Linked DNA regions of Homo sapiens: region 2 is linked to region 1. Evidence: fine-mapped expression QTL. A gene starts in region 1. The other region holds a variant in brackets. All regions are shown on one strand. Distances are between the middles of the regions.

The links.
Region 2: its variant is fine-mapped to the expression of MDH1B in thyroid (GTEx, PIP 0.98).

Annotation. Positions count from the first base shown.
Region 1 is chr2:206,754,413-206,769,846 of GRCh38, reverse strand. It overlaps MDH1B (malate dehydrogenase 1B), which reads left to right and starts at 4,519. Exons shown (of 12, transcript NM_001039845.3): 1 at 4,519-4,597; 2 at 8,834-8,946; 3 at 12,476-12,610; 4 at 12,807-12,949; 5 at 14,342-14,838. The coding sequence starts at 4,576. It overlaps FASTKD2 (FAST kinase domains 2), which reads right to left and starts at 4,241. Exons shown (of 12, transcript NM_001136193.2): 1 at 4,100-4,241; 2 at 2,377-3,203. The coding sequence starts at 3,153. RefSeq lists enhancers at 1-148, 3,971-4,350, 4,601-4,740.
Region 2 is chr2:206,733,307-206,748,740 of GRCh38, reverse strand. MDH1B (malate dehydrogenase 1B) reads left to right here. Exons shown (of 12, transcript NM_001039845.3): 8 at 2,315-2,454; 9 at 3,068-3,119; 10 at 7,637-7,687; 11 at 9,080-9,148; 12 at 10,230-10,978. The coding sequence ends at 10,258. Among named protein-coding and RNA genes, the nearest start is that of DYTN, 23 kb to the right of the region's middle. The variant G/A (reference allele first, on the strand shown) is at 8,211.

The sequences.
Region 1 (15,434 bases):
AAAACACATTTGATATTTATTATATTCCACTGCTTCTGAAACAACTTTTATTAAACATTATTTTTACCTCTTCTTGGAATTCAAGGTCATTACAAAGGCAAAAACAGTTAAAGTGCAGGAATATAAGAACTACTGAAGTACAGAAGGTAACTAGCCCATCTCTAAAGATCCTTAAATGGTTGTGCCTTTACAATTTCCCTAGATCCTTTCCTGGGTATCAAGCTGAAACTTTACTTGTGAGTCTTCTGATTCACATCTCCTGCCACATTCTACCACTGCTATCTGGGTCTCAAGGGAAGCCTACACCCCACAGATTCTTCTTTCAGGTCCCTTTACTTAGGGTACTAAGTTTGATTCCAGAAATAGTGGGCATAATCTGGAAAGTGAATAGTAACAACACAGCTTAACTAGCAGTACTCTACAGTTTAATCACTAGTCTATAAACCTCACAAAAAATCACATCTGAGGAAACTTAGCCTGAAGAGAGAGAAGCTCTTTTGCTAAAATTACATAACCAATGAATCACAAAGTCTTAAGTCAGAACCAGGTAATAATAAGAAATGGTTATGGTTAGAAGAAAAAAAAGGTTTCTTTCCTATGAAAGGGTTTCCTTAACAATTTTACAGCATTCCATCCATATCTACTATGAAAGAAAAGACCACTTGTCTATGTGTTTGAAGGGCAAATTCATTGATGGCACACTGTCCTTTCACCTCTAAAATGTCTTTACATTATTCCAACAGGTCAGTGAGACACCATCATCCATACAGATGTTTTGACTACAAAAATCTACTACTCATACCTCACCAACACAGATGTCATCCCGATGCAAATATCTGTCCAAAATCTAGTAAGAGCATCACTGACCAGGTAAGGTGATTTATTAGTCACTTTTAAATAACTACATAGGAACTAATACACAGCCTACAAATAAACAGGGATATTCTGTGGTTTAAACAAATACACACACATACACTAAATAAAAATTAGTTATTCCTTAAGGACATATGGAAATCACAGTAATGTAAAAAGTTAAAAACTTTCCCATAGCTATGAACCCAATTATTGAATTCTATAGCAAGACAGGATATATGCCAGATTATCCCCAAGGAATTCCTGTCTTTTAAAAAATTATTATTATTATTTTCAGACAGGGTCTGGCTCTGTCACCCAGGCTGGAGTGCAGTGGCACGATCATGGCTCACGGCAGCTTCGACCTCCCAGGCTCAAGTGATATTCCCACCTCAGCCTCCCAAGTAGCTGGGACCACAGGCAAGTACATCACACCCAGCTAATTTTTGTATTTTTTGTAGAGATGGAGTCTCCCTTTGTTGCCCAGGCTGGTCGCAAACTCCTGGGCTCAAGAGATCCTCCTGCCTTGGCCTCCCAAAGTGCTGGGATTACAGGTGTGAGCCACCACACCTGGCTAAGAAATTACTTCATTATCACTGAGTTTATACGTCAGAAGTGTACACTCTTAAAACATAAATGATTAACAAGCTAATCCTTCCTTCCTTACATTTGGCACCATTTCAGTGACATTAAACAGGACACTGACATTCTTGCTTTAGACTAAAAATGGCTCCCTCCATCCAATTTTAACCTTCTTCCAATACATCTTCCACTCATTCAGTGATCTAAAATACAAATTTGAGCACGTCAACCCATTGCTTAAAATTCTTCAACGGATTCCCATTGCCTACAGGATAAATGCATACTCCTTAGCTAGCCGTAAGAGGCTCTTTATGATTTGGTTCCTATTTTTCTGGCCTCTTGTTCTGCCCCTAAGCCTCTTGCCCCTCACTCCTCTCCTTTGATCGCCATGTACAAAACTTGTTCCCACCCACTCAAACATACAACTCCATCATTCTGTGCTTCAGCTACACCAAACTACTTTCAGCTCTTCAAATTTGCCAAACTTTTCCTCTGGGAACAGTAGGGCATGCAATCCTCTCTACTTGAAACACCATCCCCTTCACTATCATTCTGCTCATCAGTTTAGGTATCATCTACTGGGCCTGAATTCCAATTCTACCATGGACTAAATTCTCTTCCTTCCCCTTCCCTTCTCTCCTTCTTCAACTACCCAGGCTTTCTTTGTATATCTTGCATCTCTCCTCACTTTAGCTTCTTCACCACTACTCAACCCTGGGGATGGTAAATGTGGAAGGCTTTCATAAATTTCCATAGCAAAAGGAAGAAAATAGCTAACTTAAGGCCTCTAAATCATATAATATATATGCAGAAATAAATATAAAGGAAACTACCATTCCATTTGATAGTCTCTTTTAAGAAGGCTACATATCTATATCCCTTCATTCTTTCAAAATATTCTAAATCAAGTAAATGCATGTTTAAATCTCCTTTTTATTTTACCTGGGTCACCCTCAGCAAAGTCTGCACCAAAATAGTGTTCTGAGGGATTCCAAGCTTCACTATGGCGTGAAGACTGAACAGTAGGTACTTATACTGCATGATCTTGGCTTCTCTCATCATATGTTCACAGAGCTGATTAAATGCAGGGTGGCTAAACATCAGTCGTTTTTCAAAGCGCTTCTGGTCATCAGACAGTCTTTTGGCAATTGTCCACATTGCTGTGAAATAGTTGCTACTAGGAAATGTGGGCGCTTTTGAAAATGCATCTAACACATCACTCAGGGAATTACATTCCTCAGACAGTTTTCTACTGCTGATACGGTTTGGTTTTGTTTCCTTGGTAAGAACATCTTCATTGGAGACTTCATGATTAAGGTTTACTTTCTTCAATTCATCATCAGATTTATCAACAGGGACAAGAGACTGCTTTGAGTCAAAAAACAGTCTTTTAGCATAAAGTAGTCTTTCAATTCTAAGGGCTGTTAGAGTGCTTATGCCCTTTGTTTGAAAGCCAACATCTGATTTAAAAATGAATGCATCCTGAAAGAGATATCTAATGATATCAGTTGATTGCATTCTGTTATGAAAGTTATTTAAAATGTTCCAGTTTGAATGAACTATTTTTGGTTTGCAAAGTCCCAAACAACATAGCCTCATAGTTCTGCTTGTTGAAACTAATGTACTGAATTGTCTAAGGTTCCAGAAAAAGGAGCCCGCTTTGTTATTCATTTTGCTCTCCACTGAAACACTTCCAAATGGCTTCAAAGTTGTCAACATGAAACCAACGTCACTTCTACTAGTGAAAAAGAACACGTGCTGTCGTTTTCCTGTAGGGGAAGAAGTAATGAAAAGAATAAAAATTAAAACAAAACTTTTACTTAAAGAAATGAAATGCATTTAACAGAAGAGAAAATGGGGAACCTATGGAGCCATTAAACATTTACATAAAACAGTAAAAGTTTTTTTTACCAATGTGGGCTCCCTCCAATCTACCACAATGTGTCCAGTTTCAAAGAAGCCAGGTCACTTTGGAAGTAGTCATTGTATTAATGAGATTTTTCTGGTGCAAAAGCGTTCCATAAAGCTTTCTCTGTAGGAGAGACTTTTGTTGGCATTGTTATGGAAATGTCCTCGGTGAAAATTAGGGGATTAGCATTGATAGATCATTTTCTTTTCTCTTCTCTGTTTTTTTTTTTTTTTTTTTTTTTTTTGAGACAAAGTCTTGCTATGTCCCCCAGGCTAGAGTGCAGTGGCGCGATCTTGGCTCACTGCAACCTCCACCTCCCAGGTTCAAGCAATTCTCCTGTCTCAGCCTCCCAAGTAGCTGGGATTACAGGCGTATGCCACCACGCCCGGCTAATTTTTGTATTTTTTGTAAAGACGGAGTTTCACCATGTTGGCCAGGCTGGTCCTGAACTCCTGACCTCAGGTAATCCACCCGCCTCGGCCTCCCAAGGCGTGAGTCACCGCGCCCGGCTGATAGATCATTTTCAACATGACGATTTAGCAACGGCCGAACCCAGACCATCAAGAATAGGGACCTGGGCAGGTAGAACGGCTCAGTGGAAGAAGCAGAAAACGAAAGCGATGTCTGCACGTGGCCTGCGCTTAAGAGGAAGATCTTATACAACCAGCCAGCCTCACCAGACCCCAGAACCAACTTCAAGAGCCTGTCCTTCCGCAGCTGGGCCGCCCAGCATTAACCCACCTCCTTTAAACTTACTTCCAGGACAACTCGTGAGACTCTTCTCCTCGAAGTAAAAAGTCTAGGATGTGATACGGGCTGCCGCTAAGCCCAAGCTCGTCCTCCACTCACCTTAGAGCACAAGACCGTGACTACGTACAGGAGCAGCCATGACAGCTTCCCCGAGAAGCTGCGCTTCTCACGAGATCTTACGGATTCCCTCAAAGGTCAAAAAGCATATGTTCGCGGCTGTAGCTGAAGGACTTACTTGAAGAAAGTTTACCAAGGAGAATGACTAATTTCCCTGCATACAGGAGTGGGGCTCGGGGATACCACAGAGCTTATAAGGGCGATGTTTGATCGTGTATCGCAACGTAACCCATTCAGGTCCTAACTTTAAACACCTAACCTCTGCTGGGCGCCAGACTTTGTAGTGCGCCTGCGCCTTGCCCTTGGCTGCGTGGTTGCCAGGAAACCGCGAAGCCGCGGTCCCTGCCTCTGAGTCTCTCTCGACCATGGCCAAATTCGTCATCGCGGGTGAGTGATCCCCGCGTCCGCCCGCAGATTGCTCAAAACGCCGACAACAGCTCACCTCCCATGGCCGCTCGGCTTGGCAGCCTCTATACGGACCGCTCCATGCTTTGCTATAGATTTATTCAAAGTTTTTTACTGGACCGTGACGGTGCGCCAAGCATTGTGGGACACTGGGGATGCAATGGAGGGAAACATATCCCTGCCTTAGAGGAGCTTTCAGTCTCATGGGGCACAGAACATGTACTTTTGATACGGTGTGATTAACGCGATGAAGGAGACCTGCACAGGCCTCTGGGAGCGTAGACTCCTAATCTGGGTTTGGGGGATGAGGGAGAGGTGGACACAAGGAACTGGCTGGGGAAGGTATTACAGGAGCTGAGTTGTGAAGGTGTGAGCTGAGGAGGCTATTCCAAATAAAAGCAGAGAGGCAGGAAGCTTCCTGGCCTAACAGAAGATCTGGATATGTGGGGCGTGACAGGACCTGGGGCTACAACAGGAGCAGGAGCCAGGTCCTTGCATTTCATGTAGGTCAAGCAAAGGTGTTTGAACTGTATCCTGAAAGCAATGAGGAATTATAGAAAAATTTTAAGCAGGAGAGTAGTCTTAATGAGTTTGCATTTTAGGAAGCCTGTCTTGGCAGCAACGGAGAGAATGATTGAAAGTGCTGGTTGACAGCAAGGACTCAACTGAGAAGGCTTTTATTACAACAATCCATGGTACCTACCTCCTCTCCTCGTAAAGTTTCTTAAAAGAGTAGACTGCTCTTCCATCTCCAGTTCTGCCTTCCAATCAGTCTTGGAAGAAGGCTTCTACTTCTGCTTCCTGACAGAAACTGCTGTCACCAAAGTCACCACTGACTTTTATAGAAGCTGTTTAGTCTTTGACTTATTTGATCTCTTTGATGCATTGAACACAATTGACATCTACCATCCACAGGAGATTTTTTTTTTTTTTTGAGACAGGCTCTCACTTTGTCACCCAGGCTGGATTGCAGTGGTGCAATCGTGGCTCACAGCAGCTTTGACCTCCTGGGCTCAAGCGATCCTCCCACCTCAGCCTCCCAAGTAGCTGGGACTACAGGCATACACCAGCATGCCCAGCTAATTTTTGTATTTTTGTAGAGATGGGGTTTTGTCATGTTGCCCACGCTGGTCTTGAACTCCTACGCTCAAGTGATTTGCCCACCTTGACCTCCCAAAGTGCCAAGATTACAGGCATGCACCACCACACCTGGCCCAGAAGAATATTTTTGAACACTGACTAACCACATGGTGGGAAGTCAGTGGAAAACACACAGAGAATGTTGCATGTATGACACTGACAGGGCAGGGTTCTATAGGAACGATAGCAGGGACCTTACTTAATCAGGTAAGGGTTTCCCAGAGGGAGAGATTTTAAGCAGATACCTGAAAGATGATAATGAATTACCTAACAGAGAAGAGGTAGAAAGGAGGGGAGCAATTTAGGCATGGGTAACTGGGAGTGGGGTTAGAGCAAGGAGAACTAGTTTGGTGACAATTGAGAATATAAAATAAGTATAAAATTGAAATAAGTTTATTAGGACTGAAGCAAATAGTACAAGGAAGAGAATTTCATAAGGTGAGGCTAGAGTTAGATAATGTAGATTCTTTTGAGCCACATTCAGTAGTTTAGACTTTATCCAGAGTACATGAAAGGTTTTTAGAAGGGGAGGAGGGCCTAATCAAATCTGAATTTTATCTGAATGTTACGGCTATAGTGTGGGACAAAAAGACTGGATACCAAGAAACCAGTTAGGAGACTAGTGCTATAGTCCAGGAGGGAGTTGATTGTGACCTGGCCTAGAGTGGCAAACAATGGAGATGGAGAGAAGTGAATGGATTGGAGAGATATTAGGGAGGCAGAATCTATAGAACTGGATGTCTAATTGACTGGAGGAGGGCAGATAAGGGAGAAAAAGGAGTTAAACATTGTTCCCAAGCAGAGGTTTGAATAATTGCAGAGATTAGGAGTCACTGAAAAAAAAAAAAAAGCGGATGAGTAGGTTTAATACTCTGGATACTCTTACTACTCTTAGATAATTAGGGAGATGGACATAATAAATATAAGCGACTAAGCACATTTAGTAGGGGAATGGTGACAAAATACATCATAGACCTTCTGAGTGTCTATGAGACATTTTGAAGGAGATGGGAAAATACAGGAGGGTGTAGGCATCTAGATAAGGAGATCTGAGCTGGAAATATAGATTGCTACTTGAAGCCAAGGGAATGAAGCAGATTGGCCAAAAAGAATATGTAAGTTATAAAGACAAGATGCTTCTCAGAATGATACCTTTTAATGGGTTGATAAAGGAATGGAAACCTACAAAGGATAGAAAGGAGTGACCATAGAATAGGAGAACTGGGAGAATGCCCCCACTATAGCAGTGTTTCAAAAGCCTGGAAGGGGGCAGTGGTGGCAAATGCTGCCAAGGGTCAACAAGAAAAGGATCGGAAAGTATCTGCTGGATTTAGTGGCATGGAAGTCTTCAGTGACCTTCAAGAGAATTGTGGGGTCTGCTACATTGCAGTGGGTGAGAAATAAATGGAAGTGAAGAACTGAGGATGGCAAATATAGGGAACTCTTTCAAGATATTTTGATCAAAAAGGACATACGAAAGGCAATAGCTAGAGGGGGAGATGAGTTTTTTGTCTCTTAGGACAGGAGAAACATAATGTAATGAGTATATTTAAATATGACAGAAAGGGACTATTAGAAACAGATACAAGACTCTAGAAAGAGAGGATAATTAACTAAGCAAGGTTCCTATGAAGGCAGATGAGGATGGGATTCAGAGCATAAGTGGTGGGATTAGATTAGACAGGAGGTAGGACTCCTCTTCCATTGAAATGAAGAAAGGAGGAAAGGATGAGTCCAAGTACAGACAGGCATGTAGATGTGATGGACGAGGTTGGAGATTTTCCAAACTAATGCCATTTTGTTTTGTTTGGGTTGGTTTTTGTAAAGTAAAAAGCAAAGTTGTCTGTTGTGTTCTGATAATGCAGAGGAATGTTGGGGAGAAGGAAAAGATTTGGAGGAAGAGGAAAAAGACTGGAATAGTAATGAGGAGAACAGAAGAGAGTGCTGATAAGGGAAACAGAGGGATCTCCACGCAGGGTTGAGGGCCAATTAAAGCTGGTGACCATGAATTTTAAAGGTGCCCTCCGCTTGGTTCTACAATGTTTCTGTAGTGGTGGCTAGCAGGTAGGACCCAGCTACAGAAAAGGCAAGTAATTGAGTTCATCCAGGATAAGGGGCTTTTATCAGGCTCATTTCCCAAAAGGATAGTGGAGAAAGATAATTTAAGACATGGACCAGAAAGTGGTTTGAAGAGATGAACCATAGATTTGAACTAGACAGGGTGGCTGATAGACAGGGGTAGCTTCAGACAGGTTGGTAACTTAGGAGTTAAGTTATCTTAACTGAGGAAGAATGCTACAGAGAGGGCTCTGCATTTTTCCCCATCCCTCCTGCTCTATCAGATGCCCAATTCCATCTGTTGTAGTGGCTTTAACTTCCTGGGTGTTGATGGCTACAAATTGTGTGTCTGAAACCCTTACATGGCACCTGCACCCCATATATATGTATACATATACATATACATGTACATATACATATACATATATATCCAGCTACTTGCTGATCATATCCACTTAGACACACTACAAGTATCTCCAACTGCACTTGACTAAAGTTAAATTTCTCATTCATGATTTTTCTCTAGTTAAGGTCAGCATCATCTGCCCAAGCCGGAAAATAGAAGTTATCCCAGATTCTTCTTTCCCACCCCCACAACTTCCTGACACACATCAAATCCAAAAGTGACTTTACCACCACTCCTCACTTCAAACTTTACCTTTTGGTGGCCATTAGTGAGTAGTTCATTATCAGTACTAATTCATGCTGAATTAGTAGTAGTTAGCAGCCTCCTAGAGGAAGTGAGGTCTAGCATATTACTAGAAAAGAATAAATATTCAGTAGGGTTTTTTTTCTTTCCACATTTTGTTACTTAAGATTCTGACCTCCTATGAAGTTTATTTTATTTGTATTAATCTAATAAACATCAGAAGTTTATGTAATAGCAGTTTATACTGCAACTTTATGTTATCAAATTATATCATAACTATGACTAATTCTGTAATTACATAGCAAATACTTAGAACTACATAATAATTTCTGCATGATGAAAGAAAACATTGCTAATTTGAACTCTTTTAGGTAGAGCAGATTGTCCATATTATGCTAAAACAGAACTTGTGGCAGACTATTTACAAAAGAATCTTCCTGATTTTCGGATACATAAAATCACACAACGTCCTGAGGTTTGGGAGGTAAGAAGCCTTTATAGTTTGTTGAACTCACTCATGCACAAAATGTGTTTTAATTTGATTAAATATTAACTGGTGTATTAGACTGGCTTCTAGGAATGACTGTTCATGTGCTAGTGATATTTGAATACTAGTAAAACAAGTCCCTACTTACCAGTCTCAAAATAATATTTATGTTTTTTCCCTAATACCTAGTAGAACAAATGAGACCCTAATCAATAAGTAGAATAAGTTTGACTGCACCCCCTGAAGAATCCAGGTAGCTTACACTGCACTTGTTAACTTTTCATTCTCCTTGGTATTGATTTCCAATGACTTATTTGGGATACCCTTCTTTGGGACTCTGTTTCCCCAGAAACAGACTTTGAGATGTAGATTTTGGTGAAGGGGCTTTACTGGGAAGTGGTCTTGGGAACAGCATCCTGAAACGGAATGAGGGTGGCAGGATTGGGTAAAGGGAGAAGTTGAAGTTTGACATAGCTGCAACAGAGGGCTCAGCGGATCCCACAGTGAACTCTTGATGGCCTTTCAGAATTATTCCAAACTGAGGCAAGGTAGCTGAGCTTTTGTGCTCCCTCCTCAACCAGCCATCGGATATCAGCTGCCCCTGGGAAGGAACTTAACCTTAGGCAAGGCAATTTGCTTTGGCTGAAGTCAATTCCTAGAGAGAGAATGGAGTCAGACTTTAAGTTATCAGCCTCTAATACACCAGGTGCCTGGGAGAGTGAGTGCCTCATTTGTGAAGGGGGAACCTGGAGTGTACATGACAGCACTGGCTACAGTTCACCTGTTGTGCCTTTTGGATCCACATGCTCCCTATAATCAGTTCACACCATCTTGGAACAGCTCCTCCAGGATTCTGGTTGCCATCTTTCCCTGGGTAAACTTGATAAGAGAAAGGATAGTCAAATGAACTATAGTCTCCACTGCTCATAGTTTCAGGGCCAAACTGACAGTCATCACCTTTTCTCTCCCTCTCTTCTCTACCATCCATTATAGATTTCCCTCACTCTCTGCTGGTCTGGTCTTCAGCTAAGTTATCTCATCTGCTGGGTTGGTAGTGCTTCTGTTACAATAAATGTTGTCTGGTTGGCACTGCCCACTGGCCTCTATTGTTTCAGGATTTTATCATCTCAATTGCCAGGGAGTTCAGGTGTGTGGCAGCATGTCCTTTAACAGCCTTGGCTACAATCATATGAAAAAATGCTCAACATTACAGGTTATTAGAGAAATGCAAATCAAAACCACAATAAGATTCCATCTCATACCCGTCAGAATGACTATTATTTAAAAGTCAAAAAATAACAGATGCTGGCGAGGTTGTGGAGAAAAAGGAACACTTATAGGCTATTGGTGGAAGCATAGAAAGATAGAAATAACATTCAACCCAAAAATCCCATTACTGTGTATATACCCCTGAAAATATAAATCATTCTTTTATAAAGACACATGCACACATATGTTCATTGCAACACTAGTCACAATAGCAAAGACATGGAATCAACCCAAATGCCTATCAATGATAGACTGGAGAAAGAAAATGTGGTACATATACATCATGAAATACTACACAGCCACGAAAAGGAATGAGATCATGTCCTTTGCAGGGACATGGATGGAGCTGGAGATCATTATCCTTAGCAAAGTAATACAGGAACAGAAAACCAAATACCACATATTCTCACTTAGAAGTGGGGGCTAAATGATAAGAACACGTGGACACAGGGAGGGAAACAACACACACTGGGGCCTATCGGAGGGTGGAGGGTGGGAGGAGGAAGAAGATCACGAGAAATAACTAACGGGCACTAGGCTGAATACCTGGGTGATGAAATAATTTGTAAAACAAACCCCCATGACACAAATTTACCTATGTAACAAAACTGCACTTGTACCCCTGAACTTAAAATAGAAGTTTAAATAAAGAAAAAAAAAAAAAACAAACAGCCTTGGCCTAGAACGGACAGCCACACTGGGCTCCTCAGTGACACCAGGACCCCTCTCACCAGTGCATTCCTTATCACTTAGGTGCATGTTGTATCCTCCAATCCCTTCCAGAGAACATGGTTGAATGGCGGGCTTTCTAGCCTTCCATAGTACCACGTTCACTAGTTTTTTTTTTGTGTGTGTGTGTTTTGAGATGGAGTTTCGCCCTTGTCGCCCAGGCTAGAGTGCAATGGTGCAATCTCGGCTCACTGCAACCTCCGCCTCCCAGGTTCAAGCAATTCTCCTGCCTCAGCCTCCTGAGTAGCTGGGATTATAGGCACCCATCACCACGCCTGGCTAAATTTTGTGTTTTTAGTAGAGATGGAGTTTCACCATGTTGACCAGGCTTGTCTCGAACTCTTGACCTCAGATGTTCCCCCCGCCTCGGCCTCCCAAAGTGCTGGGATTATAGGAGTGAGCCACCACACCTGGCATCACTAGTCTTTTGATCCATTCTTCTACCGTCTTCCATGAAGTCTGGCATTTCTATTTTATTTAATTACTCTCTCCAAGTTTCTAAGAGCCAGTCTGGCAACATGTTGTCCCTGTCTTCTGAGGTCCTTGCCAGGGTATACACTCTTGAATTGCCGAAAAGTGATTCATACTAATAAATTCTCCCTTGTCTAACTTCATGTTCCACTCTTGATTCAGCACTGTAAGGGTCCAGTCTTGTACATGCCCTTGCAGCTCCTGCTGGGACATTAACATGCTTTGCAGGGTGCAGAAGGTTTTTTGGGGTAATGTCTCTTTCCTTCATGGGCCCAGTAGTTCACTGGTCTGGCTATGCTGTGGCTAGAGGGACCGTGTTGGAATCCTCATAGCAGCATTGTTTGCTTTAAGTGAGATAAAGGCAGGCAGATCTTCAATATTAGCAAGGAAATCAGTTTCCAGGATTTTATTGGTAAGGTGGCCTCATTACCCATGCCTCCAATGACGTGGTTTTTAAGACTGCTGCCATGTACTTTGCTGATAAAAATGTTTCTGTTTGACTGTACTCAGATCTTGTCATTGGAAGGCCTAGCCTATATAAATCAGATAATGATAATTTAAATTTTTTCTGATAAATATTGTCGGAAATCTCCAAATAACTTTTAGCTTATTAATTTAGTCTGAACTACATAAACCACACTCACAGATTTTAAAAAAAGTATCAAGTTTTATATGCCCCTAAGACTGGAAATATTGCATGTGTAAAAGAATAAGGGCAAAACTAGTTGAATTTTTTTAAAAATCAGTTGAGTTGGAACATGTGACCTCTCTTTAAGCTAAACACTTGGATTCCAGGTCTCCTCAGCAAAAAGAGCAACTTTCAGTACCTTTATTTGGTCAATTAATTTGAAGAATATGCTTTCTTATCTAATTAATCTGTTACTAACATCACTATTTTCTATATTTACATTTTACTCTTTGAAGATATCTAAATTATATTATGTGTATATAGTGACATTAAAAGCAACCTAGTATTTTAATGTTTGAATTCTAAAGTATGAAATTGAATTCTCAGGCAGATTTAATATATGACTTCACTTGGGATATCATTCAACAGGATTGGCTAAAAGATGTGTGTGAAAAGAATAAGTGGAGTCACAAGAATTCCCCTATCATCTGGAGAGAGCTGTTGGATCGTGGAGGAAAGGGTTTGCTTTTGGGAGGATATAATGAGTTCCTGGAGCATGCTCAGGTATATAAGTTAACTTATCTGTTCTAATAATGATAATTCTCTTACATTATTTTATTTTTCAAATATCTTGCTTTCTGAGACATTCTCTCATGTCTCTTTTTATTGTCTTTTGACTTTAAACAAAAACTTTCCATTATAGCCAATTTCAACTAGTTATCTATTCTCTGATATTGACTTTTTCTCTCCCAATATTTAGCTTTACTATGATGTCACCTCTAGCATGACGACTGAACTGATGATGGTAATTGCTCAAGAGAACCTGGGGGCACATATAGAAAAAGAGCAGGAGGAAGAAGCCCTGAAAACTTGCATCAACCCCTTGCAGGTCTGGATCACCAGGTGGGACAGTCAAATCCCAGGATTCATGAGATTTACTTTTTATATTTAGAAAGGACAATGAGATGGGATTAATTTCATGATGGAAGAATACCTGAATGTCAGGTTTGAAATTTGTGTGTATGTATACTTATATGTATACACATATACATATGCATCTCTGTGTGTGTGTGTTTGTATCCTCCATATAACTCATAAATGAGTTTTATGTTTTATAGACACAAACACAGTCACTTGGTCTAAAAACAACTCTATAGCATGGCTGCTTTGCAGAAGCTCACCCTCTCTGACTGTTGCTCTCTCCCTCTTTCCCACGTGCTAGAGCTTTCTTTGCCTTTTCTCTATGCACCCACTCCCTCTCTGTAACCCCACTCCCCTCGCCTTGCTCCCCTTTGCTTTTCTCCTTCTCATGTGTGCTCCACTTTGCTCCCAGTCTGGGCACATGCAGTCTTTGTTGTCATACTCTCTCTCTTTCTTTCTCTGCACTGTCTCTCTGTCTCTCTTGCTCTCTCTCTCCCTCCCCTTCTCCTTTCCTCACCCCTCAGTTTGTCTTTTGCACTTTTCCTGCTCTTACGTGCATGTGTATCCTAATATATACTCATTTTTAAAATTGTTATTATGAAATATTTTAAATACAGAAAGGAATTGAGAATGATGTAATAAACATCCATGATCCTATAACCCAGATTTAATAACTATCACATCTTCTTTAGATGTTTCAAAGGATTAAATCGGTACAGATACTGTTGAAACCCCCATTATACACCTCCCCAAACCCACTGTGAATACCAGAAATGCCCGGATGCATTTCTGAACTTCCCATGGTGGGCATTACAGTTCACAGCTGATAGTCACAGCTGTAGACAACTGCAGAATTGTGGCTACAGATACACCTTACATAGCCTATGTTGATCCCACCATCTTTGTAAGGATTTTTCTGTGTAAGAATTTGGAAAAGATAGCCCTTTCCAAAAAAAAAAAAAAAGTCATTATTGTGTAGATGAGGTTGTATTTTTTAAAAAAGAGCTATGGCTAACTGAAACTTACATCTTTATCTTTTTAGGAGGAAATATAAACACATAATTACAGTAATATAATAGTTTTTTTATTTTGATTTCTGCATAGGGGGAATTCTGTTTTCTTTGAAAAACCTAATAAACAGGTATATTTCTTATTTGGGGACTGATTTCAGATGGCCAGAGCAAGGGATTGGTAGTGAGAAGTTTTTGTTCTACTTTTGACTTCTAGCCTTAGAATGTCAGGGCAGCTATGTGTGTGCTTATTTAAATATTAAACCACCCTATTGATGCACATGCAGAAATATCTATTAAGAATAAAGGCTTAAAAGGGACAAAGGATATAACTATTCACAATGCGGCTTTGCATTTTTATCAGTGCCTCTGCTCCTGCCTGCTACAACCTAATTCCCATATTGACGAGTGGCGAAGTGTTTGGGATGCATACAGAAATTAGCATAACTCTATTTGACAACAAGCAGGCGGAAGAACATCTCAAAAGCCTTGTGGTGGAGACCCAAGACCTGGCATCTCCCGTCCTGCGCAGTGTCTCCATCTGCACGAAGGTGGAGGAGGCCTTCCGCCAGGCCCACGTCATTGTGGTGCTGGATGACAGCACCAACAAGGAGGTGTTCACTCTGGAGGACTGCCTCCGAAGCAGGGTGCCTCTCTGCAGGCTCTATGGGTACCTGATAGAGAAAAATGCTCATGAGTCTGTCAGAGTCATCGTGGGAGGGAGAACCTTTGTAAACCTGAAGACAGTTTTACTCATGAGATATGCCCCACGCATTGCACACAACATTATTGCTGTGGCGCTGGGGGTGGAAGGTGAAGCGAAAGCCATACTGGCCAGAAAACTGAAGACAGCTCCTTCATGTGAGTGAATGTCTCTTTATGTTTTTGTTTTTATTTTGAAACAACATGATTTCAAAGCAGCTAGGAAGAACACTGTCCCCTCTAGGAACATTCTGAGTATCTGGAATAGGAAGTATAAAACAGACATAAAGAACTTATTGTGTGATTTGACTACTGTGCAAACATTTTTTTTTACTGGCTTTTGTGTCTGGCTTTTTCCATCATTATAAAAATCAATAAATATTTAATAAGATACAATTTATATTATTCAGGTGATAATGTGACACATCGTATTCCATTTTTCCCATGGTAATAGTCAATTAAGATAACCAGTGTTTTAAAAAAAATCAAAACTATGTGCAAGTGGCTCTGCCCTACTTCCCACCCGTATGATCTTGAGCCGTCATTTAGTCTTTCAGTGCGTCAGTTTCCTCATCTGTAAAATGAGGACGTTAACAGTGCCTATCTCCTAGAATTGATGTGGGGATTCAATGAGATGTATTCCTAAAGTGCTAAGAAGAGTGTATGGCACATAATAAACATTTCTAAGGATGTTAAACTTATCAATAGGATTATGATATCTGATCGGTTTCTGCTCCTATTAATCTTTGAATGGT
Region 2 (15,434 bases), 21 kb after region 1:
GTTGTTAGGTTTTCCTAGCAATAGATAAAGGGAAAGCAAGGTCAATTCTAGGCAGGAAGCAGGTGGAACCAGGACAGGCTTCATAAAGAAGGTGACACTACAGTAAGCCTAAAGTATGAGGAGCTTTGACCTGGAAGACAAGTGTGGAAAGAACACTGGGCACAGGGAACCATAGGAGCACAGACACAAAGGCAGGATAGAGAGAGGCACTTCAGGACCCAGATCTCAGGGTACCAGGCAGCGCTGGGAATGTGGAAAGGTTGCTCTCCATCCACGAATACTGCATATAAACTTTTACAGCCCTAATGTTTTAATCCGCTAAAAACTATGCAGAAGAATTCTACATTTTTGTTTGTTTGCTTGAGATGGAGTCTTGCTGTGACGCTCAGGCTGGGGTGCAATGGCACCATCTCAGCTCACTGCAACCCCCTCCTTCTGGGTTCAAGTGATTCTCCTGCCCCAGCCTCCCGAGTAGCTGGGACCACAGGCGCATGCCACTATGCCCAGCTAATTTTTGTATTTTTAGTAGAGATGGGGTTTCACCATGTTGGCCAGAATGGTCTCGATCTCCTGACCTTGTGATCTACCTGCCTTGGCCTCCCAAAGTGCTGGGGTTACAGGCCTGAGCCACCACGCCCGGCTGACTTCTACCATTTTTACAAAACAGGAAAGAGAATAGCTGCTGTTCTGTCATCTGTAAGGTCTATCTGAAGCATCTCTTCCCTTTGGGTTCTACTTTCTCCCTTAGCAAGCTAATTCACTCCCAGAGCTGCAGACCTGGACCTCTCTGCCGAGCTCTAGCTTCTGAAACATTGTCACCTGGATGTCATGTCATCACTTCCATCCAACATATACCAGACTGAATGTACTGTCATCCTTCCCAATTGGTTCCATCTCTTGTATTCTTTATGTTATAAGTAGAACCACCATCTTCCCTATTGTTTCAGTGACGCCAGTACAGGTTAAGGAAATCTCCCCAAATCCCCCATGTCAGAATTAATCTCTGTCTCTCCTCCGTATCCCCACATAGCATTTTGTTCGCCTATCACGGAGAATATTATAGTGTGCCTGTTTTTGATAGTATGATTAGTTGCATTGTCCCCTTCCTTGTGGCACCCTGAGGGCAAAGGCTTTTTCTGGGCCACCTCTTTGCTTCTTCACAGGAGAAGCATTTTATATGGTAGACACTCAATCAATCTTGTTCAATTGAAGTTAAGGTGCATGAACATTGCCATAATGTGAATTCAGATCAGCAAATTATCTCCTTAGGGAAATAGGCACTTAAAACCTTACCTTTATTTGTAGAAAGAAAGTTTAATTAATCTCTGTAGGAATTGTATTCAAAAATAAACAATGCAGTACTTGGGGGAGGAGGGTAAATGATCATTATCTGTCTCTCTGAAACCATACCAAATAGGTAAACCCTCAGACCTTGTCTGCCCATAAGGCTAGCTCTTCACAGATTAAACAAAATACAGCATTACTTGAGGACCTGGGAAGCCCTCTAAGGAAAAGTCTTTTAGATCTTGGTTTCTCGAATGTCCTCAATGTTTTGTTGTTGTTGTTGTTGTTGTTTGTTTTTTTGCCCTGGTGATATTTTTGTTGTCTAGTATGGCAGAAATAATTTTCTTATGTGATCGAGGCACCAGAAACGGGGACAATTTTGTCTGAATGGTGCTCAGTTAGTAATAAATATGGTCAATCTTTTTATTTAGAGCACATCCAAATATAAGTATTTCTGTATATCTTAAAGAAATTAAATGTGTTATTAAATGAAGGATGGCTTCTGCTTAAGACATAGAAATATGTAAAGGAAATCATCCCCCATGAAGCAAACGCACACCAAAACACATGGCAAACTGGGGGCTGCAAAGGAATAACCAAATTTCCTGCCTCCCCTCCTTTCCCTTCCCAATTCTTCATACTCTGGCTGTGTGAGTGCTGTAGCAGGTGAGAAGAGTGGAAGGCCAGATGGACAAATGACTTAGGCTCATGGGCTGCATAGGGGTCCAGGGAAAAGCCATGCAGACAGACAAAAAGAATACAGACAGGGTTCAAAAGAGAAAGACTGCATTAGCCTCTGGATGTCAGATAAATACAGATGGCAGAATTGTTAGAACTTGGATAGTCGCTCAGTCAATCCTTCTAGAGGGAGTGTTTCAGTCCTCTTTGGAGAAGAATTCCGAGAAATTTAATTCCATCATTATCATTAAAAATCCTATACTATGTCTGTCATTTTCTACAATGCTTAACAGAAAAGGTGCATGTTTCTAAGTTCTGCTGCATTGCTTTGCTTTGTGTTTGCTCACTGCAGGCCAGTTTGGTATTCCGAAAGGGATCGTCTTTTCTATGCCTGTGAAATTTGAGAATGGAACTTGGGTGGTTCTTACAGATCTCAAAGATGTTGAAATAAGTGAACAAATAATGACCCGAATGACAAGTGATCTAATTCAGGTAATGTCAGAATAGATGCAAGGGGACTGACCTTGATAATGACCTTAAACTGATTCTCCTAGGCCAAGGCATACATTGGTTTTTCTATGGATTCAAATTTTTTTTTAATTCTTAAAAATAATGAGATAATAAAAGTTTGAAAAAAATCAGTGAAGGAACACTACTCATTTAGTTATACAATTTCTGGTATGTTAAAAATATTTGTTCGTTATTTAAAAATGAAGAATCAAGGTGTTTTTCTATTAAAGAATAGTTAAGTTGCCGGGTGCAGTGGCTCATGCCTGTAATACTTTGGGAGGTCGAGGTGGGTGGATCACCTGAGGTCGGGAGTTTGCGACCAGCCTGACCAACATGGAGAAACCCTGTCTCTATTAAAAATAGAAAAATTAGCTGGGCATGGTGGCACATGCCTATAATCCCAGCTACTCGGGAGGCTGAGGCAGGAGAATCGCTTGAACCAAGAAGGGAGAGGTTGTGGTGAGCTGAGATTGCGCCACTGCACTCCAGCCTGGGCAACAAGAGTGAAACTCTGTCTCAAAAAAAAAAAAAAAAAAAAGAAGAATTAAGTTAGGAATTGTGGTCATTTAATTCTGTGATTATAAAATTTCAACAGGAGAAACTTGTTGCACTTGGAGACAAGATACATTTTCAGCCATACCAATCAGGTAAGCTCTTAGACGTGATGTTTTATTGGACTGCTATTAAAAGAGTATTAAAATATTTGTTATAACTGAATCACTGTTAATATGAATAACTCTCATTTATATTTTGTCATTTCTAAACTAATGACAAAATAAACTGTTAAGTTCAATGTGTCCTTTGAAATAAAACATCTCATAAGAATGTTAAAGAAAACACAACTTATGAACACTATGATCTTATAAATGTTGTAGGTAACATATTTATTAATTTCCTAGGACTACCATAACAAATTACCACAAAGTGGATGGCTTAAAAACAACAGAAATTTACTTGTTCACAGCTCAGGAGACTAGAAGACCTGATGTGAGGTATCAGCAGGGCCACACTCTCTCTGAAGGCTTGAGAAAGAATTCCTTCTTGCTTTTTCTAGCTTTGGGTTGCACTGCTTGCATTCCTGGCTTGTTGCTGCATCACTCCAACCTGTGCTTCCCTCTTCACATGTCCATCTTTCCTCTGTGTGTGTCTGTGTTTCTAAGTCTCTCTTTCTCTCTAAGGATACCAGTCATTGCATTCAAGACCTGCCCTAAACCAGTCTGAACCCATCTTAAATTGATTATATCCACCAAGACTCCATTTCCCATAAGATCACATTCATAGGTACCAGGCGTTAGGACTTCAACATATATATATATATTTTATTTATTTATTTATTTATTTATTTAGACAGAGTCTTGCTCTGTTGCCCAGACTGAAGTGCAGTGGTGCCATCTCGGCTCACCACAAGCCCCGCCTCCCAGGTACGAGCGATTCTCCTGTCTCAGCCTCCTGATTAGCTGGAACTACAGGTGCACACCACCATGCCTGGCTAATTTTTGTATTTTTAGTAGAGACGAGGTTTCACTATGTTGGCCGGGCTGGTCTCAAACTGCTGACCTCGTGATCCACCCACCTCAGCCTCCCAAAGTGATGAGATTACAGGCATGAGCCACCATGCCTGGCCAACTTCAGCATATCTTTTTGGAAACACAATTCAACTCACAACACCAGATTTATTTTTAGATAACTTTATTAAAAGCCAACAAATTTCAAGAAGCTTATTTTTCTTATTGGTATTTTCTCCACTCATAAGAAATAGGGGAGGGCTGACATCTTTTCTTTGCCTTAAAGATGATCTCATCTTAGGTATGGATATATACATGTAGAAATAAATCAATTTATTTATGCAAAGGGCTTTAGTCAAGTGTCTTTTGGAGCCCAATATTCCTTCCTTCTGCTAATGTGTGTGCAGTACCAACTATAAGCCAGTGCTAGGAGCTGGAAATACAGAGGTGAATGAGATAGACCTGATCTTGCCCTCTGGGAACCTGCAGTCCATCAAGAGGCTGGCCACACATTATATAGATGACTGCAACTGTGGTGCGTGGGAGGAGTAAATGTTGGCTGCTGTGCTGTCAGAGCTCATGCCTGCGGATAGAAGGGAAGAATCTGAAGCAGGAAAGTACATATCAACTTGTTTGGAAAAACTGTGGAAAAGCTCATGTGGCCAAAGCCAGAAGAGATGGAGCTGAGAGATACAGCCATGAGGAGTAGATGTGAGAGCTACAGAAGATTTCTAGATGGAGAGAACCTGGTCAGTTGTGGGATTAGTTTGAAAAACATCCTGGAATAAGGCAAGGCTGTTTGCAGAAAGACTGGTATTGAGGGGGAGTGCATACAGCCAAGACCAGAGGCAGTAGAAATTTGAGAGATATTTAGGATGTGGAAATATCAAGAATTGCTGATGAATCTGATTGGCTTTGGTGAATCCCAGGGTTCTTCTGGCTGAACAACTGGGCAGATTTACTATTGATAAGGGGAAAATGGTAAAAGAATGAGAGAGAGAGAGAAAATATGAGAATGTGGGAGGGGTGTGTGTGTGCATGCACGCCTGTGGATGGAAGAGGAAGAAGCATGGTGCCAGATTAGAAAAAGCATGAGTTTCATTTCTTACATTTTGATTCTGAAATACCTGTGTGATATCTAAAATGGAAATGTCACATGGAGAACTGCATACTTCCTGGAGCTCAGAAAGATCTGGACTACAGTTGCCAAATGGGGAGTTGTTGCCTCATAAATAGAAATGAAGCTATCAGTATGGTGGAGATTGTCTAGAGAGAAGGTAAGAGAAAAAAGCCTGGAGGAACTTAGCCTGTCATGGTTAAGTAGAACAGGAGCAACTGACAGAGGACCATGAGAAAGGGGTGGTCAGAGAGTCAGGATAAGTCCCTGGAATCTGATGATGTAAAAGACCTGAAGGCAGAGGGTGTTTCAAGAACAAGGACTGTTCTACACTGTCAGATGCTACTGGTGTGTCAGATAAAATGATACCTGAAAAATACCCAATGGATGTATGACAAAGGTCATTTGTGACTTTAATGAGAGCAATTTTGTGCAATGGAGAGGGCAGAAATGAGACCAGAGTAGAAAGCTTCCTGAGCTGCAACATTAAACGCCAAGTCCCTACTTAGTAGGCCCAAGTCAATAAATTCAGCCTGATCCAACTCTGTGTTCCTTCAACTATTATCCCATACCCTTAATATCCATTCCCATACCTGTTCTCCAGATTTCTGTTTATATAAATTAGAGACATCGGCTGGGCGTGGTGGCTCACACCTGTAATCCCAGCACTTTGGGAGGCCGAGGTGGGCAGATCACAAAGTCAGGAGATCGAGACCATCCTGGCTAACATGGTGAAACCCTGTCTCTACTAAAAATACAAAAACAAAATTAGCCAGGCATGGTGGCAGGCACCTGTAGTCCCAGCTACTTGGGAGGCTGAGGCAGGAGAATGACGTGAACCCAGGAGGTGGAGCTTGAGCTGAGATTGCACCACTGCACTCCAGCCTGGATGACAGAATGAGACTCTGTCTCAAAAAAAAAAAAAAAAAAAAAAATAGAGACATCAAGCAGCTCTTTTTGAGTGTAGCACACTTCTTCATGGGTCATACTCTCAACCTCACCTCTAGAGGCCCACCAAGACTTTAGTCTAGTTATAGGTCTAGAAGCAAACAAGGGTGTTAGGGGTGGCTACTGAGGAGAATCAACATTTTCCCTGGCAACTGCCTCAGGGGAGGCCGTCACTCTTGCCTCAGGCAGCACAGGGTTTATCTCCTCAGACAAAGGTGGAAAGGCTGATGACAGCATGGGTCAGGGAGGGGATGTTGCCACTACTGGGTATGGGGAAGCTGTTCCATCTGGCAAAAAAGGTTCATCAGAGTTTACAAACTCAGTGTCCCCAGCTTCATCAGGGTTCTCCCACACGTCTCCATTCCAAGTTGCAGCATCCCATTCTTTTCCAATTAATGCCCTCACTTTAACAGGAGACACCTGGCAAGGCTGTGCATACACTTTTCGTTGCAGTTCAACCACTCACATAATAAGAGCTTGTGTCTGTTTTTCCACAATTTCAGCTCTTTCTCTACAGGAGATAAGACTCACTCAGGGCAATCTTTGCAGATTTGAGGCTCAGTATCTGCCAGGAGACAGAATCTCTGAGTTCATCATTTTCTTTCATCACTTTGTCCACTGAACTTAGGAGCAGCTAACCAGCTTCATTATGTTCCTTTGTTCACCACATATGGTCAAAGGTATTATGTATAGAGTCACTAAACTCCCTGCCTCTCATGGGCAGTGAATCAGGAGTGTCAAATTCATTTATTTTGCATAACTCATTAAACAGTTCATGCCAAGGACTATCAGTGTTCTCCATACTATTAAAAGTAGAGTCCTTAGGTCCTTAGCATTTGGAGGTCGAATCATACTAAGCAGCCAACTCCAGAAACCCGAAAACCAACAAAAGAACTCCATCCTTAATATTTTGTTTCTCTAGAACCACTCCTGGTACCAAAATCTGTATAGTCAAGGTTCCGTAGAGGGACAGAACTAATAGGATACTTATGTATAAATAAAGGGGAATTTATTGAGTATTAAGTTACACAATCACAGGGTCCCACAATGGGCTGTCTGCAAGCTTGAGGAGCAAGGAGAGCCAGTCTGAGTCTCAAAATTGAAAAACTTGGAGTCCAATGTTTGAGGGCAGGAAGCATCCAGCATGGGAGAAAAATGTAGGCTAGGAGGCTAGGCAATTCTCACCTTTTCACATTTTTCTTCCTGCTTTATATTTGCTGGCAGCTGATTAGATTGTGCCCACCAGATTAAGGGTGGGTCTGTCTTCCCCAGCCCACTGACTCAAATGTTAATTTCCTTTGGCAACACCCTCACAGACACACCCAGGATCAATACTTTGCATCCTTCAATCCAATCAAGTTGGCACTCGGTATTAACCATCACAATTAGAAAAAGATAAGTATTATTTCATGTATTTTTTTGTTTCATTAATATGTACACAAATGTACACATTGGACTATAATGTAAAATGTGTCTTTTATTGTGGGTCATAGTCACTGAAGTTTGAAAAACATTGACTCAGAACATCTCATGACCTAGTTAGGTTGTTGGTTATATTCTAAATCCAGCATGTTTTATTTAATTTTGATTTCAGGACATAAAGATCTGGTCCCTGATGAAGAAAAAAATCTAGCTATGTCAGATGGTAAGTCAGTGGGGTTATAAACAATGTCTATATTGCTAATAGTCGTGACTCATATTGTCCAGTTGTTAGAGAATAATGTTATGGTCTAGCGACCAAAGCAAGTTTTAAATAACTGCTTCTTTTCATATGCTTCACAAACACTTTGAAATGGGCATAAAAATGTCAACTTTTTTTTAAAAAGCACTAAAACTGCTTCCTTGTCATATTCACCTCAAACTCTCCCAAAATACTCTAACTTCAGCTCCAGTCCCTTGTATCTCTTGCTTCTCACCTTTCCCTTTTCTTCTCAATTCTCTATTATGAAGCCCAAAATAACCAATAGGGCAAGATAGCATCTTCCTCAGAACACAGGTGAGAGGAAAAGACCGAGAGAACCAAGTTAGAATTCTCCTTAACAGGGAAAATCTGGGATTTTTTGTCTCATTATGTGTATATATATCTCATCATATATATAATTTATAATGTATTACATAAATACACACACATATGCTGTTGACCCTTGAACAGCATGGGTTTGAACTGT[G/A]CAGGTCCACTTATGCAGATTTTCTTCCACCTCTGCCATCCCTAAGACAGCAAGACCAATGCCTCCTCTTCCTCCTGCTCCTCCCCAGCCTAGTCAACATAAAGAAAATGAGGATAAAGAACCTTATGATGATCCATTTCCACTTAATGAATAGTAAATATATTTTCTCTTCCTTATGATTTTCTTAATAACATTTTCTTTTCTCTAGCTCACTTTATTGTTAGAATGCAGTATGTGATACATATAACATACAAAATATATGTTAATCAACTGTTATTGGCAAGACTTCTGGTCAACAGTGGGCTATTAGTTAAGTTTTGGGGGAGTCAAAAGTTACGTGTAGATTACTGATCACACAGAGGAATGGTGTCCGTAACCTCCACATTGTTCAGGGGTCAACTGTATACATATAATGTGAGTGCTTGCAAATATTTATGTAGAGAATTGTATTTTTTCTAAAGCTGCCTATACAAACCATATATCAAAAAAATAATAATTTAGTCTGTTTCCATTTTTATGGCTTCATCTGAAACTATCTATTTAGAAGGAAGCTAGCAATCATTGAGAAGTTGCCCAGTGGTTTATGGGGGCCAGGGAAGGAGGCTTCATAGGGATGTTGGTAGAAAGATGCTATACTGAGCAGTTGACTGAACATCTGCTTGTTCATATTGTCCACTCAGGACATAGATAAGTCATCATCAATGGTTGAGACTTTATATAACAGTGGTCTAGCATCTTGTAACTCCTAGGAGAGCAATGCATTCAGAGAAACCTCAGAGTGGAAGGAACAAGATAGAAGAAAATGGAAATAACTGCAAAAATTATTGCGCTTTACATACTAAAAACTATTCTTTTAACTCTATTTGCAGCAGCAGAGTTTCCAAATCAGATTCCTCAAACCACCTTTGAAAAGCCACAGAGTCTTGAGTTCCTAAATGGTAGGTGGTAGACAAAACATTAACTAGTATTTTCTTATTCTACAAGTGGAACTGGGTAATAGAGGATCAAATTTCCTTGCAATACTATTCTTGTCAAACCCTCCCCACTTCCCACATTCCCCAGGGACCCAGCCTTGGTTGCTTACTCTCCTGGATCCCAGCGTCCCACTTTTTTTTTTTAAGACAAGGTCTGCTCTGTTGCCCAGGCTGAAGTGCAGTGGTGCGGTTACAGCTCACTGCAACCTCAGCCTCCTAGATTTGTGCCCCTCCCAACTCAGCCCCTGAAGTAGCTGGGACCACAGGCATGCATCACCACTCCCAACTAATTTTTAATTTTTTTTGTAGATCTAGGGTCTCACAATGTTTCCCAGGCTGGTCTCAAACTCCTGGGCCCAAGTGACCATCCACTTTGGCCTTCCAAAGTGCTAGAATTACAGGCGTGAGCCACCGTGCCTGGCCTGCTTCCCACTTTTGCAACCAAATCCTTAAATCCTTCATTAAATCCTTCCCTCAAGATGAATAAGTAAGGAAATTGACACAAGTAATCTGCATGTCCAGATTTCCCAAGTATATAACTGAGTTGAAAACAAAGCTGACGTAGATTTCTTTGTGGTTGACCAATCAGGATATTCACCCAAGCCCCCACCCTTTTATTTAAATGTCCAATAAAATGAACAAAATTTCATGCACCTTTCATTCTGAAATGTATGGTATGATGGACTTAGGAATGGGGCTAATCAGGGGGAATTAGAATTGGTACATAGAGGAGCAGCAAAGTCGAGCAGAAATGGAGCTGACAACATAGCTGCATACATAATTTGGAATGAAAAGCAAGGTGACAGGAGAGAGCACATAAAAATAGCTTGTGGCCAGGGAAGAGGCCACAATTAGTTTTGCTATATGAAAATACCTAACTATGATCTCATGGCTTTATTTCCCCATAGAATCACTCTCACACATGCACTTTCTCAGCTATTGAATCATGAATACAGGAATCCAGCAAACAAAAAAGCTAATAATAACATATGCTACTAACATATTTTGGAAATAGTTATGTCTTTTCATTCTTTTCCTTTTACAGAATTTGAAGGCAAAACCGTGGAATCCTAACAGATCAAATTGGATGAAATATATAATTACTTGATAGCACAATAAACATAGAAAGAATTTATATGAATGTCTATATTTAAGGAAGAATAATTTGAAAGATTTATGTCAGTCTTAGATAATACCATGCAAGGCAATTAAATCACTGTGACAGCACAGAGGTCAGAGTTCCGTCATTTTGCATTACTTGTATCCACTCATGTTTGTTTCATAATAATTGCATTTTCTTAGAACTATTTTGGTGTCAAATGCTATTTTTTATATTACATTAAAATAGAGTTGTCAGTCATTGCATCTGCCCATACATCTTCTGAGAGAACCTGCTTCCTTCCATCAGCCATACCTAAGACCTGCACCTAAGTGGCCATGTTTGCTCAAATGTCCTCATCACCTTGGCCTCAACTAATTAGGCCAAACAGATGTACTTCACTCAAGGAGAACCAATCATATTTTCTCTCTGTCTCTCAAAAAAAAATTGAACTGAGACCAGTGAGTAAGTTGGTGTCTGGGTCAGGTTAATGGTGGTGAACTATGTGCCTGTGAGCTCTTCAGAGCTGGTTGGGTTCACCACCTTCATAAGACCTGCCTCTGTACCATTTTTCCTTGAGTGTGCTTTGTATAAAGGTCTGTACAATAAATCACACTTTTTTAAAGCTTAGATTGAATAGGTTTCTGCTCCTTGACAAGAGATATGGCCTGAATAAAATGAATTTTGAAAGAAAAGCCTAATATTTTTACTATATAATTGCATGGTTTAAGTAAAAATTACAGTCTTTTATTAAAGCAGTAATAGCCAAACCAGTATGCTGAGATATTTTCCAGCTAATAAGGCCCTTTACCAATGCCAATTAGGAACTTTTGAAAGCCCAGGAGTCATGTGAAGAACTGCTGATATCTGTGCTTTCTCTGTATGTTTAATAGCTCTTAAGATACAAATCACTTTCTGAAAATTCAGGGAAATTGTAGCTGCATCTTCTGCATTGCTTCTGCACCATCATAATGCAATGGGTAATTTCAAACCCATGACTGACTTCTGCTTGTTTCCAAAGTCAGCACTTCATTTGATGTTATTGTGAAGAAAGCTTAATATCCGTGTTAAGGACATTGATTTTGTGCCCTAATCCTACCAATACCATTGCCTGACCTTGTAGGGTCCTCAACCCAAGGAATGTGACCACAGAGAACAAGAGCTGGATGGGAAATCAAATGGTGCTTTACGCAGAGCTGGGCACATGGCGATTGCTCCTCAACATACAGGGCTTCTTATGATAAAACTAAGCGAGATTAGAAACTGTGATTCAGACCAAGAAGCCCAAGCTAAATTTCCCGCTCCATACCCCTTGAATCAGTTATGTGACTCACTTATTACCCATAACCAGATAGAAAAGCTAGACCAAAGAACACAACCACGAACACATCACCTTTCAAAGTAGTGGCCCTGCCCCTTAGTGATTTTCTTCCCATGAGTGTCAAGTTGTGAACAATGAGATAATAAGCTTCTTCTCCAATTGGTGGACAACTAGGAAAGGGCTAGAGGAGACCTAGACAGAGTTTTGTCCCCTTTTGGGACATATTAGTCCCCATCCCCAGAAGTCTCTACTTCCAGCGTGAATATGAACTGCCATATGTTTGGACCACCATAGGATGACAAGAATGCTCTAGAATATACTCCTATAGAAGAATAGAATGGATTGATTTTAGTCACCATATCTACTACCACACATTTGTCCCAAACTAATATATGGAATTACACTGGGAGGAAAGTGTTAAGTGTTTGCTATTTATTTAGAAATAATTACGATGCCACTTCAAAAGTATTTTTCAGGGTGATGTGGTTTGGCTTTCTGTCCCTACCCAAATTTCATCTTGTAGCTCCCATAATTCCCACGTGTTGTGGGAGGGACCCAGTGGGAGATAACTGAAACATGGGGGTGGGTCTTTTCCATGCTGTTCTCACAATAGTGAACAAGTCTCACAAGATCTGATGGCTTTAAAAATGGGAGTTTGCCTGCACAACCTCTCTCTTTGCTTGCCGCCATCCACATAAGATGTGACTTGTTCCTCCTTGCCATCCACCATGATTGAGAGGCCTCCCCACCCTGTGGAACTGTGAGTCCATTAAACCTCTTTCTTTTGTAAATTGCCCAGCCTCGGGTATGTCTTTATCAGCAGCATGAAAATGGACTAATACACAGGGAGTTTTTTTTTTTTCTTTATTTTTTCGACTGATGCACTGGTTCTCATGGTAGCCTGTTATATATAATAGACCAACTTGGGAAATCTCAAGTCTGATTTCCCCATTAAAAGTAACTTTAATGTGAGGTTATTATAAATAGTTTCTCTATGTTGTTAAAGCTATCATGGTAAAGCCATGAGAGAGGAATATTCTGTAGAAAAATTAGAGTATTGTTTGGAGAAAGGCATTATGTGTATAAAGTAATTAATTGGTCACTGGAATATGAGTTAAGTGTCTATAAATCTTTGTAACTATAGCAAGCACTATTAGTTGCCCTCCCTACAGCCCTGCTTAATTCTCATGACCAACAGAACTCTGATTTTGTTGGGATGGTTGATGGGCCCAATAAATAGTGAGATACCTAATTTAGTCCCATTTGCCAGTGATTGGCCTAGGGGTAGGCATACAGCCCATTTTGGACACTGATAGATAAGTCTTCTGGAGGCCTGCATGAGACAGAGAGAATAAATGGTATGTAAGGAGAAAGCACTTTGGCTCCCACCTACTTCCTTCCTGCTTAAAATGCTGTCCTACTGGGATGTAATGCTCACAGCTTCAGCAACCATTTTGTAGCCATGAGAAGAGACATCACCAGCATAGGAGGGTAGCAGTAAAGAAAGACAGAAAAAGCATGGTGCCTAATCCTGAGGGCTTGATGGCTTCAAAGAGCCTCTGAACCAACCCTGGATCAACTCCAGAATTTCTGTCTAATAAACAATAAATAACTCTATGTTTTAAGTGCATGTTATTGATGGGTTCTATTACTTATAGACAATGGCTGCATACTTAAATATGTGGCTATATATACTTATAGCTAACAGCTATTTAACTTACTAGAGAAATATCTTTCAATTTTTCATTTTAAGGGAATTAATAAGAAATATATTTAGATCATTTGTTTTTTAGAGACAAGTTCTCGCTCTGTACCCAGCCCAGAGTGAAGAGGCACAATTATGGCTCAGTACAACCTAGAATTCCTGGGCTCAAGCGATCTTCCCACCTCAGCCTCTCAAATAGCTGGGACTACAGGAACATGCCACCACACCCAGCTAATTTTTAATTTCATTTTTATTTTTGTAGAGATGGGGTCTTGCTATGTTACCCAGGCTGGTCTTGAACTTCTGGACTCAAGTGATCCTCCTGCTTCAGCCTCCTGAGTAGCTGGGACTACAAGCATGAACAACCACACTCAGCCCCTAGACAAACTGACTTTTCCGACTCAGCTAGGCTCAAAATCTGTACTGACTGTTATATTTGTTTTATCTTCCCTAAATCCAGTCAGTAAATGCCACCAACTTACTTCAATTCCAGACCATGATTTTTGACATTAGCATGAATCAGAATCACTTGTTAAAATAGATTGCTGAGGGCCAGGCATGGTGGCTTATGCCTGTTATCCCAGCTCCTTGGGAGGCTGAGGTGGGCAGATCACTTGAAGTCAGGAGTTTGAGACCAGCCTGGCCAACATGGTGAAACTCCCTCTCCACTAAAAATACAAAAATTAGCCAGGCATGGTGGCACCTGCCTGTGGTCCCAGCTACTCCAGAGGCTGAGGCTGGAGAATAGCTTGAACCCGGGAAGCAGAGGCTACAGTGAGCCAAGATCGTGCCACTGCACTGTAGCCTGGATGACAGAGCAAGACTCTGTCTCAAAAAAAAAAAAAAAAAAAAGAAAACCAACAAAAAAAAAAATTGCTGGGGACTATCTCCAGAGTTTGTGACTCAGTAAATCTTAGGTAGGGCCTGAGAATTTGCATTTCTAACAAGTTCCCAGGTGATGCTGATGCTACTGATCTGGGGACCATACTTTGACAACCACTGCCCTACACTATGTCCTCAAACTTCATCTCACTGAAGCCTTGATAGATCTTACACAGTGATGTGGCCTTTCCTCTCTTGGCGAACCATTACTTATTTCTTTTTATTTCAGGGAGATGAACATTATGAGACTCCAAGAGACAGAAATAGGATAAAGAGCTATTCCTCCATCTACACACTACCAGATGCAACTGTGAAGTAATGTGTAACTTCCATTTGCTCCTTTGCTGGCCTTAAAACTAACATCTTTAACTCTAAAATGGTCCTGGCTCAGAGCTGAAAGCTTACTCGGTCTGCAGAGGACACAGAAAGGTCACCCAAGCTTGTAGCTGAGTTTCTGGAAGCAAACTGGTGACTCTCCCAACAGTGAGCAGCTGTTCTACCCCTCATATTAATTTCTTCTGGGCAGAAAAAGTGAGCCCACAGAGCTATCTAATCACAAGTCTCTCAGTTTATTGGTACAAAGAAGCATGATTTCTAAACAAAGAGGCCATAGCAAAGGTTTTGCAGAGTCCTGGCAGTCTCCTCCTTTGTAGGTGTGCTACCCATCTCTGGGAAAGCAGCCACAAACCCTAGTGTGTCTTGCTCAAGATCAACACACATAAGTCATACTTAAACAATGCCATTAAAATTAAGTTTTCATCTATGGCCCCTAAAATTACCACCATGTTTGCAAAATCCCATGATAAGCCCTCAGTCCTCATGCTGACTTGACCTATCAGTAGCATTTGACATATGTCTTAGTCCCTTCGTGCTGCTATAACAAAGTACCATTGACCAGTAGCTTAGAAGCAACAGAGATTTATTTATCACCATTCTGGGAATTCTTGATTATTTATCACCATTCTTGATCTGAGACTTGGAAGTCCAAGATCAAGGTGCCAGCAGATTCAGTGTTAGGTAAGAACATATTTCTTGGTTCATAGACAGCACCTTTTCACTGTGTCTCCACATGGTGGAAGGGGCTAGGCAGCTCTCAGATGCATCTTTTATAAGGACACTAATCCTATTCATGAGGCCTCTACCCTCATGACCTAATCACCTCCCAAAGGCCCCACCTCCTAAAGCCTGCTATGGTTTGGACGTTCATCCCAACTAAACCTTATGTTAAAATTTGGTCCTAATG